2 separate regions of the Homo sapiens genome follow, and region 1 is linked to region 2. The links come from fine-mapping of genetic effects on gene expression. Tissue or cell type: prefrontal cortex. Region 2 holds a variant in brackets; the other region holds the start of a gene. All regions are shown on one strand. Distances are between the middles of the regions.

Region 1 (8,101 bases), 870 kb after region 2:
CCAGCCGCCGGGAGCCCCTGCCCTCCCCAGGCCAAGTACGCTCTGTGCTTCCAGAGAGAGCTGATTCTACACATAGGCACATTTATGTCACCTACATTTAATGTTCCCCAATACTTTCACTTAATTTTGGACATCTATCAGTACATTACCTCTAGAGCTGCCTAGTTCTTTTTAATGGCTACAAGGTGTTTATTCTATTACACGTGTACCATAAATTAAGCAGTTCTTAGACATTTCACTTCTTTTGAATCTTTTGCTTTAATGAGCAATGCAGCTAAAAAATAAGCACACTTATCTGCATCCATGTATAATGATATCTATAACATAAATTCCTACATGTACAACTACGAGCTCAACGATTGTGTGCATGTGTAAGTTTAACAGATATGGCAAATCGCCTACAAGAGGTTGATCAATTTGATTACCTATTAATAAGATATGAGCATCTGACCCTTATACTCTCACAAACTCAGAGTTAATCAAATTAAAAAAAAATTGCCAATCTAAGGGTTAAAAATGTATTAATTAAATACTATGAGAAAACTTATATGTTTTTCATGTTATATATCTATTTGTATTTCCTTTCCTATGAACCATCTGCTCATGTCCTAACACTGTTTTTCTACAAGACTGTCATCTTTTCCGTGTGGGTTTTAGGAAGTGTTTATATATTACTGATATTACTGTATTATTTGTCACATATTCTAGAAACGCTTTTTCCTAGTTTGCCATGTCTTTTGCCTTTATGCTTTTTTTTTTAGGTCATGCAGAAATCTCCAATTTTTAGGAGTCAAATGTATCAATTCTTTATTTTATGGCTTCTAAACTTTATTTCATACTTAGAAAAATATTCTCCATTTTGGGATTATAACAGCAACTATCTGGTGTTTTCTGTGGTACTTCAGGGTTTCATTTTTCACATTACATCTTTGGACTATCTGGAATTTATTCTGGATAAGACAGGCGTTCCACTTAATTTTGTTCTAGAGAGCTACCAGGCATTCCGGCATTTACTGAATCCATCTTCTCACCACAGATAAGCACTGGCCCTTCAAAAGCTCATCTATGGCAGAAAGACACTGCCACCCCCTCTGTACACTAGCTGTCACTATTGAGAACACAGAATCCATCTGAACGAATTAGACTTGCTTCAGATATGCTAGTAGACTGAGATCTTCTCCAGTCCTACAAAGCAACATTTCTGTCAAGTGCATTTCCAGCAGACATCAACTGGCTTGACAGTTATCATTATAACTAAAACAGTAGTGAGCTGATATGGAAAGGTCTATTGGGTTTTTTAATTTATTTCTGCTTACATACTCAAAAGGGAAATCATAAAAGAATATAAAAATTCTTCAGAATTTCTTCCCAATAATCAAGTCTGAATTGTTCTTCTAACTTAAAGTTTACAATGAATTTATTTAGAATAAGTAAGCTGCAGTACTTACAACACAGGTAACAGATGGTTTCACTGCACAGTCAAAAGTGACAGGCTTCCCATAGGTACAGGAGAAATTTGTTGTGCAGTCTATACAGTCTGCAGGAAGCCTGCTACACAAACCATTGCTCGGACACTTCATCACATAAGGTGGGATTTCAGTACTTTCTGTGAGAGGCAAGAGAGAAGCTTATTCTCCTATAATACTGATTCGAATAACAGAGAACAATCTTCTAAGGTTAAGAGACGTGATCATTAGCAAGTAGACACTGCACTGGAAGGGAAGAAGCATGGGACTGGAGTCAGAGACACCTGCAATTAAAGCAGAATTCTGCCCACGGCCAGCTGTGGGACCTGGTGAGCACCACACTTGTAAAACATTACTTCATTCCTGCCTCCCACGTGGCCGTGAAAACTAAAGGTGCTCATATACAAATAATGTATAGAAAATTCTGGGTATACATTAAGGGCTTAAAAAAAAGACTATCATTTTGTAAGTTGAAAAAAAACTTACAGTAGGGTTTTGCAAAATCACAGAGGAAGTCTGTGGCAAAACTGGAACTAGAACCCAAATCTCTCCATTTCCAATCCCGTGTTCTTTTCATCTGAATTCACTAATTCAGAAATGAAGCCACTGACATCCTCAGGGCATCAACTTTAAAATGTCATTATTTCACACTGGTACTTCGATAAGCCACATTTGCTAATATAATATTTACAGTTTTACGCTACCAAAGTTCAAAACAGTTCTCTACTTTAATAACATCTTCAGTAAGCTGCAACTTATTTCCAACCAACCTAATGAGTGTGCAATGTATTTTTACCAACTGAAAGGATCAAAATTGCAAGTATTCCTGAAAAGAAGGGCTTTCAAAAGCCTGCAAGAGTTAAGAACTCTTGTGCTTTCTCTAAAAAGTAATCTGAGTTTAAAATTCAAGTGCACTGCTGTTTTTTACATCCAAATAAGAATCAGTAAAATATCTCTGCCAGTTTCAATTCACTGAAGTAATGTCACTTTAAAGTGATGAAATTATAGTCAGAGCCTCCACCTAGCAAAACACACTAATGCTTGTTTAAAACTGGTCCTACTTTACTCACTGTATTAAGGAACAATTCTACAAAATACTCTTTTTGATCCCGTGACTATGTGGCTGGAAGGTGGACACTTAGAATCACAAAGCAGAAATGACTTTAGGTCGTCAGACCAACCCCACCGCTTTAAAGATGAGGACCAAGGTCCAAAGAGGATAAATAATTTGTTCAAGATCCCAGTAGCAAAACCAGATCTAGATTTCAAGTCTCCATCAGTCCCGCTGTAATCCTTCCATTTCCACAGTCCTGAGGGAGCCTTTAATATTCCAACATCAGGAACAGGGTTTTAGCAGTAGAGGAAATTTGCTGAAGGGAAAGAAGCACGGACTGAAGGTTATTTTGATGGATGAAGTGGAAAAATAATAGAAATAAGGTGACAAATGAGCGTGGGATTGGAAAAAGAGAGGAGGCAGAAACGTCAAAAGGTATAAATACGAAGACTATCTACTGAAAATGGCTGTGTATCTACCCTTAATTCACATAATCTAAAATACAATAAATATTCAAAAATGGAAAGTGACTTCGTATACTAAAGGGAATTTTTATAAAAACAAAGAGAAACTACTAGAGATAACTACATGTATTTACTAGAATAGAAAACGTCTAGTACCTGCTGCCCTGGGAACTACTGTGAATGTGCGTGTTGGGCCCGGATCCTTTATTGACTGAGCCAGCGCCTGCGATTGCTCTAAATTTAAGGATCGTACAATTAGAGAAACACGTTATCCCGGGACAAGAAAACCTTATTTTGTGTGGTTAACACGGCGGGTCTACACCAGGCCAATAAGCTGCTCATGAAAACCTCACGGCTGGTCAGCCAGAAAACACAAAGCTTAGGGACGAAACGTCAACAGAGTAGACATCAGTTCAGGTCAGCCGGCAACGAGGGACCGAAGGATGACATCGCGCTCCAGTTCCGCCTCCCCGGCCCAGCCCCCAAGCGCTCCATCTCCGTGCCAGGGCTCCGCAGCCGCGATGGCGGGCTCGGTGTCGCCGGAGCGGAGGGGCGGCCTCGGGCCGGGCGGCCAGGGCGCCAGACTCCAGATGCAGCGACAAGCGGCCCGGAGCCCGGCACTCGGCCTCCTCCCCGCGTCAGCGTCCGCCCGTGGGCCCGGCCTCCTCGCAGCTCCCGGGGCCCTGCTGCCACTCAGCCCCACCCGGCGCTGAACCCAGCCTTTGACTCACCACCGCCCGACAGAATGCAGAACTGCGAGAGGAAGAGCAGCACGCGACACAAGGCGCGGAGGCCCCTCAGCGGGAGCACCCCTCCCGCCATCTTGCCAGCGCCTGCGCACTTCCGGGCCGGGGGGCGGGGCGCGCCTGGGAGCCGGAGCGTGAACTGGACGCAGGCGCGCTGCGACTCCTGGCGGCCGGCGTTTGCGCTTTCGCTGTCCTCGCGCGGGTCGCGGGTTTTCTTCCGGTTGAGCCTTCTGGGAGGTCCCCGAGGAGGATGCGAGCCTGGGAGGTTGTTCCATTTCCACGCGCCCCTCACGCCCTTGGACGAGGCCCTCACCCCTGGTTCCACTGCAGGAGACCTGTTAAAGGTCATCCGTGGACCGAAATGCGCGCCCGAAGCAACCAAGAGCAGAGGCGGGCGAACGCGGGAGGCTGGCCGCCCCAGTGTGTGGTCGGATGTTGTGTGCTGGATCTCGTGCGAAGGTTCCGAGGACACTATCGCGTGGCGTTTCATCCTAAAGACACTTATTTACAGTCGGGGAAGCGGCCCCGGGACGACGAGGGCCCGAGGGACCCCTCCCCTGGGGCCGGCGCTCAGGCCTGCCGCGGCTTTCACTTCTGGCCGGCCTCTTGAAGATACGCAGCACTTCCAGAAAGTTCCTCTCAGGCCTGGAGAAGCAGGATGGCCCGAGGCGCTGGGAAGTGAGGGGAGGGTCCAGAGCCCAGCCCTGCCTGGGGAAGGTCGCGGCCGTCTGGGGAGCCGCGCTCAGGCCCCAGCTTGCGGAGACCCTTGCCGGTTTCTGTCACAGCACACCTGGGAGAAAGCGCTGGTGACAGGTGCTCTCCTCCCACCCACGTGCTTCGGGATCGTTCATTCCGCGGTCTTCTGACTACCACCCCCTCACGTGCATGTTTGCTGAATGACTTTTTAAAAAATACATGGAAAAGTGCCGGCACATAAGCCCTGAATGTTAGCTTTAAAAATCGTATCACGGCCGGGGGCGGTGAATCACGTCTGTAATCCCAGCACTTTGGGAGGCCCAGGCGGGCGGATCACGAGGTTAGGAAATCGAAACCATCCTGGCTAACAACACGGTGAAACCCTGTCTCTACTAAAAATACAAAAAAATTAGCCAGGCGTGGAGGCACGCGCCTGTGGTCCCAGCTACTGGGGAAGCTGAGGCAGGAGAATCGCCTAAACCCGGGAAGCGGAGGTTGTAGTGAGCCGAGATCGCGCCACTGCACTCCAGCCTGGGTGACAGAGCGAGACTCCGTCTCAAAAAATAAATAATAAAAATCATATCACACAATCTGCACCTTATACTACTACACAAGCCTGATATATATTGTTTTGTTTGCCAACTGTTTCACTGTTCACATCCCTCAGGAAGTTAACTAAATGATCAGTATATTGAAAAGAGATTATTTCTTACATTTCTTTTGAATTTCACAGCATATCGCAAAATAAACAATACTTCTTGTTTGGTAGCTGAATTCTCTATTGACATAATGCCATTTTAATTCAGTTCTGAGCACGTAGAGCATTCCTCTCTTTAAAATCTGAAATCCATTTCAGTACATAAATCCATGGAATGTCATCCCATCAAAAAAGTAACAACTCTAGGTGAGCGGCTTAGTGGTGGTAGAAGCCCACAGCTGAAACGCTGGAAACACTGATGCAATTCATTTGGGAATTTATTTTTTTCTAAAGCGGAACAAAACCTAATTATGAATAAGAAACATTTAAATGGCAACTCTTAACCTATAGTGCAAACACCAGATTCCACAAAACTGAATTCCTTTGTCAGTAATCCAATATTTAGCAGTAGCTGCTGCTTTTGTGGTTGTTGGTTAGTTAAAATTAAGTAATGATTCCAGTTTAGAAGATAAAGTTTCAGTGTGAATTTTAGTAGAAGTCATAAAAATACCTGAGACATATTAGAAAATAAGATTTTCCCTCCTATTTAAAAAAAACTCTGCAGACTTTTATTTGAAGCCCATCTTTTGAAAATCACTAACATTTCATAATCATTTCCTAGTGTTTTGTTTCACTTTCTCGATGAATAATATTTCCCCATTTAAGTTTCTCAAGGCATTGATTGCTGGAAAATTTCCCACGTGCCCTCTAAACGTCCCCCGTGGACATGAGTAAATTAAACTTCGTGCATGTCAGCTACACGTTCATCGTCTCCTTTCTCAGCTGAGGCCATGAGTGGACCCATCAGTGGCTCCAAAGTCGTAGAAGTACTAACATGTTAAGAAAAATACATTTTTAAGGGTCAAAACAAAGTTACACAGAAGCAAATATCAGGGAAGGACTTCAAAAGGCCTCCTCAGCATTGAGTGTCCGTGTCTTCCTGAGATTCTTCAGTTTATCAATGGCAGAAGTTACTAAAATCTCTCCATGAATTTTGTTGTCTCTTGTTCGCACGTTTACAGCATTATCTATCTTTTCCTTTTCTCCAACCACTGCAGAAAAGAAAGGTAAAGAAATGTATTTTAAATCAGCAATTTACCAAACATTAAGTCAGCAGTCCCATGACATGTTTTTATCAAGTTTTTCTTCACTAATATTAAATATCATCTAATGAGCATTTGGTTCATCCTCTGATAGTTAAGTTTCTTGAGGGAAGCAATGACTTCTGATCCCATCTCTCTATTGTCCACCTGAGAGAACAGCTCTTGTGGTCCTGGGGTGCAGATGAGAGGGGGGAGCTCTTACAGACTCACACTGACTGCACCTGGCACTAGGGCGCAAATGAGAGCGGGGAGCTCTTACAGGCTCACAGTGACCCCACCTGGCACTAGGGCGCAAATGAGAGCGGGGAGCTCTTACAGGCTCACACTGACCCCACCTGGCACTAGGGTGCAAATGAGAGCGGGGAGCTCTTACAGGCTCACACTGACTCCACCTGGCACTAGGGCGCAAATGAGAGCGGGGAGCTCTTACAGGCTCACACTGACCCCACCTGGCACTAGGGTGCAAATGAGAGGGGGGAGCTCTTACAGGCTCACAGTGACTCCACCTGGCACTAGGGCGCAGATGAGAGGGGGGAGCTCTTACAGGCTCACACTGACCCCACCTGGCACTAGGGTGCAAATGAGAGGGGGGAGCTCTTACAGGCTCACAGTGACTCCACCTGGCACTAGGGCGCAAATGAGAGCGGGGAGCTCTTACAGGCTCACAGTGACTCCACCTGGCACTAGGGCGCAAATGAGAGCGGGGAGCTCTTACAGGCTCACACTGACCCCACCTGGCACTAGGGCGCAAATGAGAGCGGGGAGCTCTTACAGACTCACAGTGACTCCACCTGGCACTAGGGCGCAAATGAGAGCGGGGAGCTCTTACAGGCTCACAGTGACTCCACCTGGCACTAGGGCGCAAATGAGAGCGGGGAGCTCTTACAGACTCACAGTGACTCCACCTGGCACTAGGGTGCAAATGAGAGCGGGGAGCTCTTACAGGCTCACACTGACCCCACCTGGCACTAGGGTGCAGATGAGAGTGGGGAGCTCTTACAGGCTCACACTGACCCCACCTGGCACTAGGGTGCAGATGAGAGCGGGGAGCTCTTACAGGCTCACGCTGACTCCACCTGGCATACCTGATGAGCCAAGGAGTGGACACCAGACCCATGCGAGCCAGCCAGAACTTTCTGGAATGTGGGTAAAAAGTTTGTTCTCTCTAGTGACCCATATTGTGAGATGATGCAGGAATCTACAGCCATGCTTCTTGCCACACAGAAGGAAGAAACCGGTCTGCAGATAAGTGGAATAAGGTAGATATTCAAGAGAAGCATAAAGAACCAGAGCAAGACAGGAACGAGAAATGGGGAGAAATACTCCTGGTGAGGGTTGAGCTCCTGATTGCTCTTCTAGTGGTTTGGCTATTTAATTCTACCTTTCATGTCATGGGATACTCCAAGACCCTTCCAACAAATGCTGTCTTTGTCTAAACCAAGTTGAGATTTCTGCCACCATAAGAAGCCTGACTGAAACAGCACAATACCTACTCTGGTGTCAAACATTATCATTGAAACACTGTCAATAGAACAATGCTATGCATATTTATTTCGCCTTCTACAGACTCTCAACTTACAAGAAATAGCAATACTGTGCCTGCAGTTATATCAGTGTTAGTTTCTCTTAATTTTGGAATCATTTTTAAAGCCTAAATTTTAGATTCTGCATCTAATTAGTCATATGCTAAAAGGACATTTTACTTTTCATCTAAATCTTTTCCTTTAGATCATTTTAAATTTGGGATCTTTTCTTTCTGTTAGTTTAATCCCAAAGTTTCCTAATAAGCCAGAAAAGTGAGGGAAAATATTACAGGCCTGTGAGGCTGAAATATAAAGTATATAATTCTACTGATGGGATCATTTTCAGAGTTGT
Region 2 (8,101 bases):
GGGCTTCTTTCTCACCTTTGTTTTGTCCAGGGATCTTCCAGTCCCTGGTGGGTGTCAACAGCTCCCAGCTGAAGAAGCAACACCTGGGGAGATCCTGCATCCCAGAGGCCTCTCTCTGGAAGCAAAAGGCGTGGGGAGAAACACCCACACCCCTCCTTTCCTCCTCTGTGCAGCCCCTCTGTCCTCTGAGAGAGGACTGCTGGGAGTGGCCACTCACCACTGCAGCTGTTCCCAGGGGTTCTCAGGGATCTGTTTCTGTCTTTGCTGAAGCCCACAGTGCACACATCAGTAACAGCATCTACCAAATAACTTATCTAAAGAGATAGAGGAAAGCAACTCTCAAGCTAGTAACAAAAGGTCACCTCTGTAGGGCAATCTCTGTCTGCCCTGCCCCTGCCCATTCAGCCCCTCTGATGGGCCAGGCACTGCACCAGCCCAGGGGATTGCTGTGCTGGGAAGGCCTCTCCATTCTGGTCACAGTGGCAGCCTGGGATCCCTGCTCTCCATCTCCCTAATGAACTGTGACTCTCCTGGAAAGCATCTGTTTTCACGAAACGTAACCACGGAGGAGTGGGCGAATGGAGAGGGGAGGCCAGAGGAGCTCCCTGGGAAGGCGCAGGCAGTGCCCTCAAGGCAGGTTCACCCTTTCTGCAGCCAGGGCTGCAAGGAGGGACAGGCAGGACTCGGGCTGCAAGGAGGGACAGGCAGGACTCGGGCTGCAAGGAGGGACAGGCAGGACTCGGGCTGCAAGGAGGGACAGGCAGGACTCGGGCTGCAAGGAGGGACAGGCAGGACTCGGGCTGCAAGGCATACTGAGGCCTCCAAGGGCCAGAGGGAGCTGACCCGCTTGCTCACCCTGGCTGGGGGCCACACCCTGGCACATCCCACAGCATTCCATATCATGGGGGGGGTTACCCTGCTGTTCCCTGGAGCTGGTCCCCTCTTAGGCATGGTGTGCTATGAGCAGGGCCTGGGACCCTCCTCAGGGGTCCTGGCTTTGTGAGGGAGAAAAAAAAATGTGTCTTCTACCTTCTTATGTTCAGTGACTGAGGTCCTGCAAATTAAACTGACAAAAGGCAATTAACAAGAGAAAAGAACAGATTTAATTATATACATATGCGTGGGCATTCACAAAGAAATGTGACTCTCTGAGGTGGTTAGCATTTGGAGCCTGTGTAACATCTTAACAAAGAGCCATAAATTGTGGAGATGTGGCCAGCATGGTGGCTCATGTCTGTAATCCCAGCACTTTGGGAGGCCAAGGCGGGAGGATCACGAGGTCAGGAGATTGAGAGAAGCCTGACCAACATGGTGAAACCCCATCTCTACTAAAAATACAAAAATTATCTGGGCATGGTGGCACATGCCTGTAATCCCAGCTACTCAGGAGGCTGAGGCTGGAGAATCACTTGAACCCGGGAGGCGGAGGTTGCAGTGAGTCGAGATCGTGTCACTGCACTCCAGCCTGGGTGACAGAGCAAGACTCTGTTTCAAAAAAAATAAAAAAATTGTGGAGACATGACAAGACAAAGGAAAAATGTTTTGAGCTTCTAGGGATGGCAAATGTGGAAAGGGATACATACGGGGGAAATAATGGAAGATAAGGGTTGTTAAAGGTTATGACTATTCAGGTTGGTGCCATCTCCGGTGATGAGTTGTGGCTTCTTTCTGGTACAGGAGAGGGGAGGAGGAATCCTTCACAAAAATGAATTTCTGGGCCAGGCACCGTGGCTCATGCCTGTAATCCCAGCACTTTGGGAGGCCGAGGCAGGTGTTGAAGGAGGAAGTCAGGAGTTCAAGACCAGCCTGGCCAACACGGCGAAACCCCGTCTCTACTAAAAATACAAAAATTAGCCGAGTGCGGTGGTGCATGCTTGTCATCCCAGCTACTTGGGGATCTGAGGCATGAGGATCTCTTGAACCGAGGAGGCTGAAATTGCAGTGAGCCAAGATTGCTCCACTGCACTCCAGCCTGGGTGACAGAGTGAGACTCTGTCTCAAAAAAAAAAAAAGATAAATTTCTGCCCTCCCTTGAGGCAGATGGGAGCATGGGGAGTAGAGAGCTTTTTCTGCATCTGGCTGTTTCTCAGTTGCCTTCAGCTCAAAATAATCCTTATGTCAAAGCGGCATCCTTTGGGGTGGCATATTCTGATGCTTTCACACTCCTGCCTCCGTGCCTGTGATCTCCTCATCATTCTGCCTTTGCTCCAGAAAGCCGTGCATGATGGTGCTGGGAGTCTGGCCACAGAGATGAGATTCCCAGCTTTGCCTGTCATCAGGGGTGACATCTCAGCCAAGGCCAGCCCCCTTCCTAGGCCTCGGTTTCCTCTTCTGTAAAGCAGAGAGGAACACGGTGCCTACCTCCTGGCGGGCAGTTACGAGCACTCCACAACAAGATAAGGTGAAGTAACAGCCTGTGTGCACCAGGTTCTCCTTACATACTAGCTAGATGCATGACAGAAAGCTACATTACAGAAAGGGACAATGATGTTCACAGTGACTTCTGAGCCAGGTAGCACATCACTCCCAAACACTGCCGTGGATATTCTCTCACTGAATCCTTATAATTATGTTCTTTTATGGATGAGAACAGGAGAGCTTAGAGACATTTGCTGCCTGGCCCAGGTCCCATAGCCCACGCCATGGCTCAGACTCCCAATCCCACGCTGCCTCAGACCCGGGCTACCCTGCCCTGGCTCACTGAGATGGTGAGTCCTGCTGTTCCTTGGATGGTGCCTGCAAGCCCCAGGGAGGTGTGGACGGAGGGGAGTTTTGCAAAGGGGTGGTGCTGCCCAGATCGGGGCTCCATATGGGCAGAGGGAGTTCTGGAAGGTTAGAGATTCCCCAAAAGACAAGCTGAGGAAGGGAGACAGCAGCAAGGCCAGGAGGGAGGCCAAGGAGGCAAAAGACGACAGGATCAGAAAGAGGCAGGCAGGAGGCCAGGGCAAGCTGCAGCAGAGGGGCAGACTCCGTGAGGTCAGCGCTGCGGGTGCAGGGTGCAGAGCTCGATGAGACCCGGGATGG[T/C]CGCAGCAGAAAGCCTGCGCCCTGGAGAACTGGAGGAGGCCTGGCGCATCCCCACTGCTGGCAGCTCCTTAGAGGCACTGGCTCAGCAGGAAGAGGAGGCCAGCCAAACACCGGGGCAGGTGGGGTGGGCACACAGGGAGCAGCGGGGAGCCAGATGGGGAGAGGAAAAGAAGCTGTCCCCAAACATGGGCAGAGCATCCTCACATCTGGTCAGCTACACATGGACGAGGACCTGTGGCTCTCAGGTCTGATGATCCCCAGCTCTGGGGAGGGCTGGAGCACAGGGGGCTCTCCCACTGCTGGTGAGAAGAGAAGCTGACCGTCTGCAGCACCTGCCAAAGTGAAGAAACTCAGTTCCACCCCCAGGTACTTTTCTGGCAGGCACTGTGCACAGGTGCACCTGGAGACAGGTAAGAGGATGTTTATGGGGCAACCTTCCTAAGAGCCAAAGATCAGAAGCAACCCCGAGTCCATCAATAGCAGAAGAGAGAAAACAATGGAAGAGAGAAAACAATGGTTGTGTTCATGTAATGGGCCATGCACGGAACTGCAATAGGAAATGAGCGAAGACCAGGCAATGAAATAGAAGGATCCCCCAAACACACTGAGCAAAAGAAATCAGGCACTGACGAGGACATGCCCAGTGATCCCAGGGGCAGAAAGAGGCCCAACTCAACTCTGGTGCTTAAGAACTTGTAAGTAAGTGATAAACATCATTAAAACCAAGTACATGACTGTCACAAAAGTCAACGCAATGGTTTCCTCTTGGGACAGCTGAAGGATTCCCAATGAGACAGGCTCTTGGGGGCACTCCTGAGTCAAGGCAATTAGCCGTTTCCTATGGCATAGATGTGCTTTCAAATTCTACGTTACGTGGCAAATATCTGCTATATGAGTTTTCTGTGATGTGTGACCAATCACACTTACACAACAAAGAGGGGTGGGGAGTGGAGAAGCAGCCATCACCTCACCTTTCAGGACCTACAGAAGGAAGGGTTGAATGAAGCCAGCTTCCCTGATCCAGTGATGTAGACAGAGTGAGGAGGAAGGGAAGGGCCTGCCTGGGGCCAGCTGTGATGTTCAGCATGAGGTGCTACCTGGTGGACATGCCAAGGTGCCACCAACCATCAAGTGGGCCACAGGAAACAGCTGTAAGATCTGTAAGATGCAATTATGTCAGGGAAATGGTGACTTCAGAAGGTAGGCAGGCAGGTGGGTGGATCATATTTGCCTATGGATATTGGAAACCTCATTCCACGTGGATATGAGTGACTGTAGGAAGAGGCCCAGCGTCACAAGCCCCTCGGCCCCGCAGGAGAGCCCAGAGCACCTCAGCTGTAGCTGAGAGCTCCAGAGCTGTAGGTGCCTTGTGCACCAGGGCGGTGGGAAGGCTTGGAGGGAGGAGCACCCAAGGTGTCCCTGTTCCAGACCAGGCGGTGTGCAGAGGCCCTGGCAGGGGACGATGCTCACAAGCCCCTAAGAAGCTGGGCTCAGAGAGGTCAGTGAGTTGCCCCAGGTCCAGGGGCTGCTCACAGGCACTACTGACTTTCAGCTCAGGTTTTCTTGGCCCCAGGAAGTTGTTCTTCCCACTATGCCATGTCATGACTCATTCATGGAGTGAATTTCTTGAAATACTTTTAGTTTCAAAAACTAATTCGAAACACCTTTTGTTGTTGTTGCTGTTGTTTTACTTTGAGGGGGGCGGTTAATGGGCTTTTACATCAATTGAGATTTTGTCTGAAGCCCTAAGTGAAGATCAGTTCTGCATTTGGACTTACCTGCCCATTTGCAGATGGTCAGGCCCGTTTCAACCTGAGGAAATCCCTAGATCAATGTGATGTGAGAGTGTGTGTGAGAGTGTGTGAATGTGTGTGTGTGTCAATGTGTGTGTGTACGTGTGTGTGAGTGTGTGAATTTGTATGAGTGTGTCAATGTGAGTGTGTGTGAGTGTGTGTGAATGTGTATGAGTGTGTGTGTCAATGTGTGTGAGTGAGTGTGTATATGTGTGTATGTGTATGTGTGTGTGTATGTGTGAGTGTGTGAATGTGTGTCAATGTGAGTGTGCTTATGTGTGTGAATGTGTGTGAGTGTGTGTCGTGTGTGTGAGTGTGCGTGTGTATGTGTGTGTGAATGTGTGTGTGAGAGTGTGTGTGCGTGTCAATGTGTGTGAGTGTGTGGGTGTGGGTGTGTGAGTATGCAGGCGTGTGTGTGTGTGAGCATGCAGGTGTGTGTGAGAGTGTGAGCATACAGGTGTGTGCTTGCTGTCCTGAAGTTAGATTAGGCAGGGCCGTCTCATCAAGCCTCCAGCACAGCTGTTAGGGGCTGAATTGTGTTTCTCCCGAATTCATGCACTGAGGCCCTAAACCCATTCCTCAGAATGTGACTATTTGGAGACAGGGCCTTTAAAGAGGCAGTTAGGTTAAATTGGGGTCGTTAGGGTGGTCCCTAACATGATCTGACTCGTGTCCTTACAAGAAAAAGAGATTAGGACACAGACAGGCACAGAGGAAGGATCACATGTGGATATGGAGAGAGGGCGGCCGTCTGCAAGCCCAGGATGGTCTCAGAGAAACCAGCCCTGCCGACGCCTTGATTTGGGGCTTCCAGCTTCCAGAGCTGTGAGAAAAATCAAGCTGTTACTTAAGCCTCCCATTCTGTGGTGTTTTGCTACGGCAGCCCGAGCTGGCTGAGACACCAGTCTCCAGTCCCTCAGGGCTGGGAAGTGGGTGCGTCCCACCTGCCTTCACGTCTTCTCCGGCCCACCCTTCACGAAGATTTTGCCCCAGGGAGGAGCCTCACGGGTCACCTGGCCAGATCGCCTCTCTAGACCCAGGTGAGGATCGGCCTGCTCCAGCTCACATGGCCCCTGGTCGACCTGCTGCCACCCTGGAGGCAGAAGACTTCATGGGACGGGGTGGGGAGCAGACCTGGGTGGGCGTCATGAGCCCACAGAGAAAGATTCTCCATCACAGCTACACAGCAGAGTCCTGAAACTCAAAAACATGCCCCTGCCGGGGTCTCCCCAGAGCAATTAAGGCAGAACCATTGAATAGGGCCCAAGCCTATGCGCTCGCTTTGTAACTTCTCCGGGGACCCTAACGCGCAGCTAGAGCTGCGGCGCCCGCTGAAGGCGCATCACGGACACCTGGAGGCGGCTGTGGCTCCTGCCGCCTGGGTGCGCTTCTTGTGCTGGTTGAGCGTGCTCCTGACGCCAGCGTGTAGGCTTCCTTCCATCCTATTGCTAAATCCTCCTTGAGCAATCGATGCCATCCCCCTGACTTTTCCGGAGAAACCCCTCGGTGGCTTTGCTCTCCATACGGAAATCGCGTGCCATTTCTGTTGTCACTGATTTCTCCAGACATGTTGAACACGGGCTCCTGTCCCTCCCAGCACCACACCTGCTGCCTTCCCCACACACCCAGATGGGATGAGGTCAGCTGCTCTGGGAGCAACACAAGAGCCCAACCTGCCCAGGCTGCAGCTTCCCCCGCACAACTGCACCCAGCGCCAGGCTGGGGTGGTGTCCATGCAGAGGCGGCAGCTGCTGTGGGGAGCCAGGCAGGCCGGGGTCTAAAGTGTGGCCCAGCCACTGACTAGTAGAGTGGTAGGGGTCAAGCAGCCTCACCCAGTGAGCCTCAGTTGATTCCTGTGTAAAGTGGAGCCAGGGACACCCAGCCCCTGGCTTTGATCAGGTGCCTTTGTTACTTTACCTTTTGTCTCTCTTGCCTCGCACCCTTTTGGCATCCTGTGATGGCAGGAGATTCCCATGTTGCTAAGCAGGCTTCAGTCACAGGGATCTCCCCTCAGTTCCCCGCCAATCTCTGGAAACTCCCTCTCCTGCTTTTCCTTCTGAGAATCTCCAGAGTCAGTTCCTGCAAGGCTCTGCCAACCTCCAAGCATGCCCCAGGGCTGGGATGAGAGGGAATGGGGAGGTAAGAGGCCCTGTGCAGGTGGGTTGGCCGCCCATCTCTCTGCCCCTGCTACTTCCCCTGCAGCAGTTTGGGGTCCCACCAAGGGGCTGCACACTGCACCTTGCCTTCTTGCTCACCGGCATCGGATGCACCGGAAGGAAGCAAGCTCAGCACTGCCCACGTGCTGTGCCTTTGTGTAGATTACAGAAGGTGCCCCCCTGGGCAGCAGCAACCCCTGGCATGGTGTGGCAAAAGTGGCATGAGCTGGATTTCAGGTCCAATTTGCCTCCTAGCTGGGCACATTTGGCCCAATGCAACTACACAACTGAACGGAACAGCCCTGAAGACCATCGCCATTCAATCATCACCCAAAGAAACCATTTCTAGCAAGGGAAACAGCAGCTCACTGCAAAGCCTGATTCTGCAGTGTCTCTTCCCAAGCCCTGCATCTGGAGCATGAACTGGGGGGAGGTGATGCCCATGGGATTCATCCCTGTGTTTCCTCTCTGACACACAGAGAGTGGGGTCCTGCACAGGATGGGGGCTCAGAAGCAACAGGCTGAGCCAGTGCTTACACTGTGGCTCTGTCTTTACTGTGTGGGCTTTCTGGGTGATCGTGCCTTTCTCCGCTCTGCGAACAGTCAAGTTAGCATCCCTTAGCAGACACACAGGACCTAGAAGACTGTGTGGGCAGATGCAGCAATATTGAGGCAGAGGCCCCCAGGCAGGCTCCTGGATGCCTCAGGTAGAGTTCCAGAATGAAATGCCTATGAATGTGTCTCCCAGGACAGCACAGGGTTTTACTCTCGGCTTCCCCTTGAAATCTGAACTCTTCTCTTCCTGTTGCCCTCCACTGTCTTGGCTATGATGCCCTGCCCATTCATTGATTCTGCCAGCAAGCATCGAGCACCTACTATATGTGCTTGGAGGAGCTCACCACAGGGGAAGGGGAGTTAGAGAGGGAGCCACCTTTCCAACTGACATAGGCAGAAAGGAGTTTAGGAAAGACGGCTTTCTGGAAGAAATACAGCCTCCACTTGGCAAATGGCTGCTGTGCACCAGGCCTCATAACAGGAGGGCCGCAGAGCTCAGCAAAGGGAATCTTTGCAATTGGCCTGTGCTGCCGCCTGTCCATGCCCAGAATAGCAGGGAACCAGCCCTTGTGG

What was found. PIP is the estimated chance that this variant, and not a neighbour inherited with it, causes the effect.
Region 1: it holds the start of TM2D3, and the variant in region 2 is fine-mapped to the expression of TM2D3 in prefrontal cortex (GTEx, PIP above 0.99).

Annotation. Positions count from the first base shown.
Region 1 is chr15:101,648,556-101,656,656 of GRCh38, forward strand. It overlaps TM2D3 (TM2 domain containing 3), which reads right to left and starts at 3,826. Exons shown (of 6, transcript NM_078474.3): 1 at 3,716-3,826; 2 at 3,141-3,218; 3 at 1,449-1,606. The coding sequence starts at 3,806. TARS3 (threonyl-tRNA synthetase 3) reads right to left here. Exons shown (of 19, transcript NM_152334.3): 19 at 5,041-6,175. The coding sequence ends at 6,027. RefSeq lists silencers at 3,414-3,973, 4,214-4,403 and enhancers at 4,064-4,123, 4,230-5,120.
Region 2 is chr15:100,781,264-100,789,364 of GRCh38, forward strand. All of the region lies in intron 2 of LOC105371024 (a long non-coding RNA gene), which reads left to right. LOC440313 (protein enabled homolog) reads right to left here and starts at 3,222. Exons shown (of 1, transcript XR_001751715.2): 1 at 2,698-3,222. RefSeq lists an enhancer at 807-1,436 and a silencer at 6,167-6,367. The variant T/C (reference allele first, on the strand shown) is at 3,025.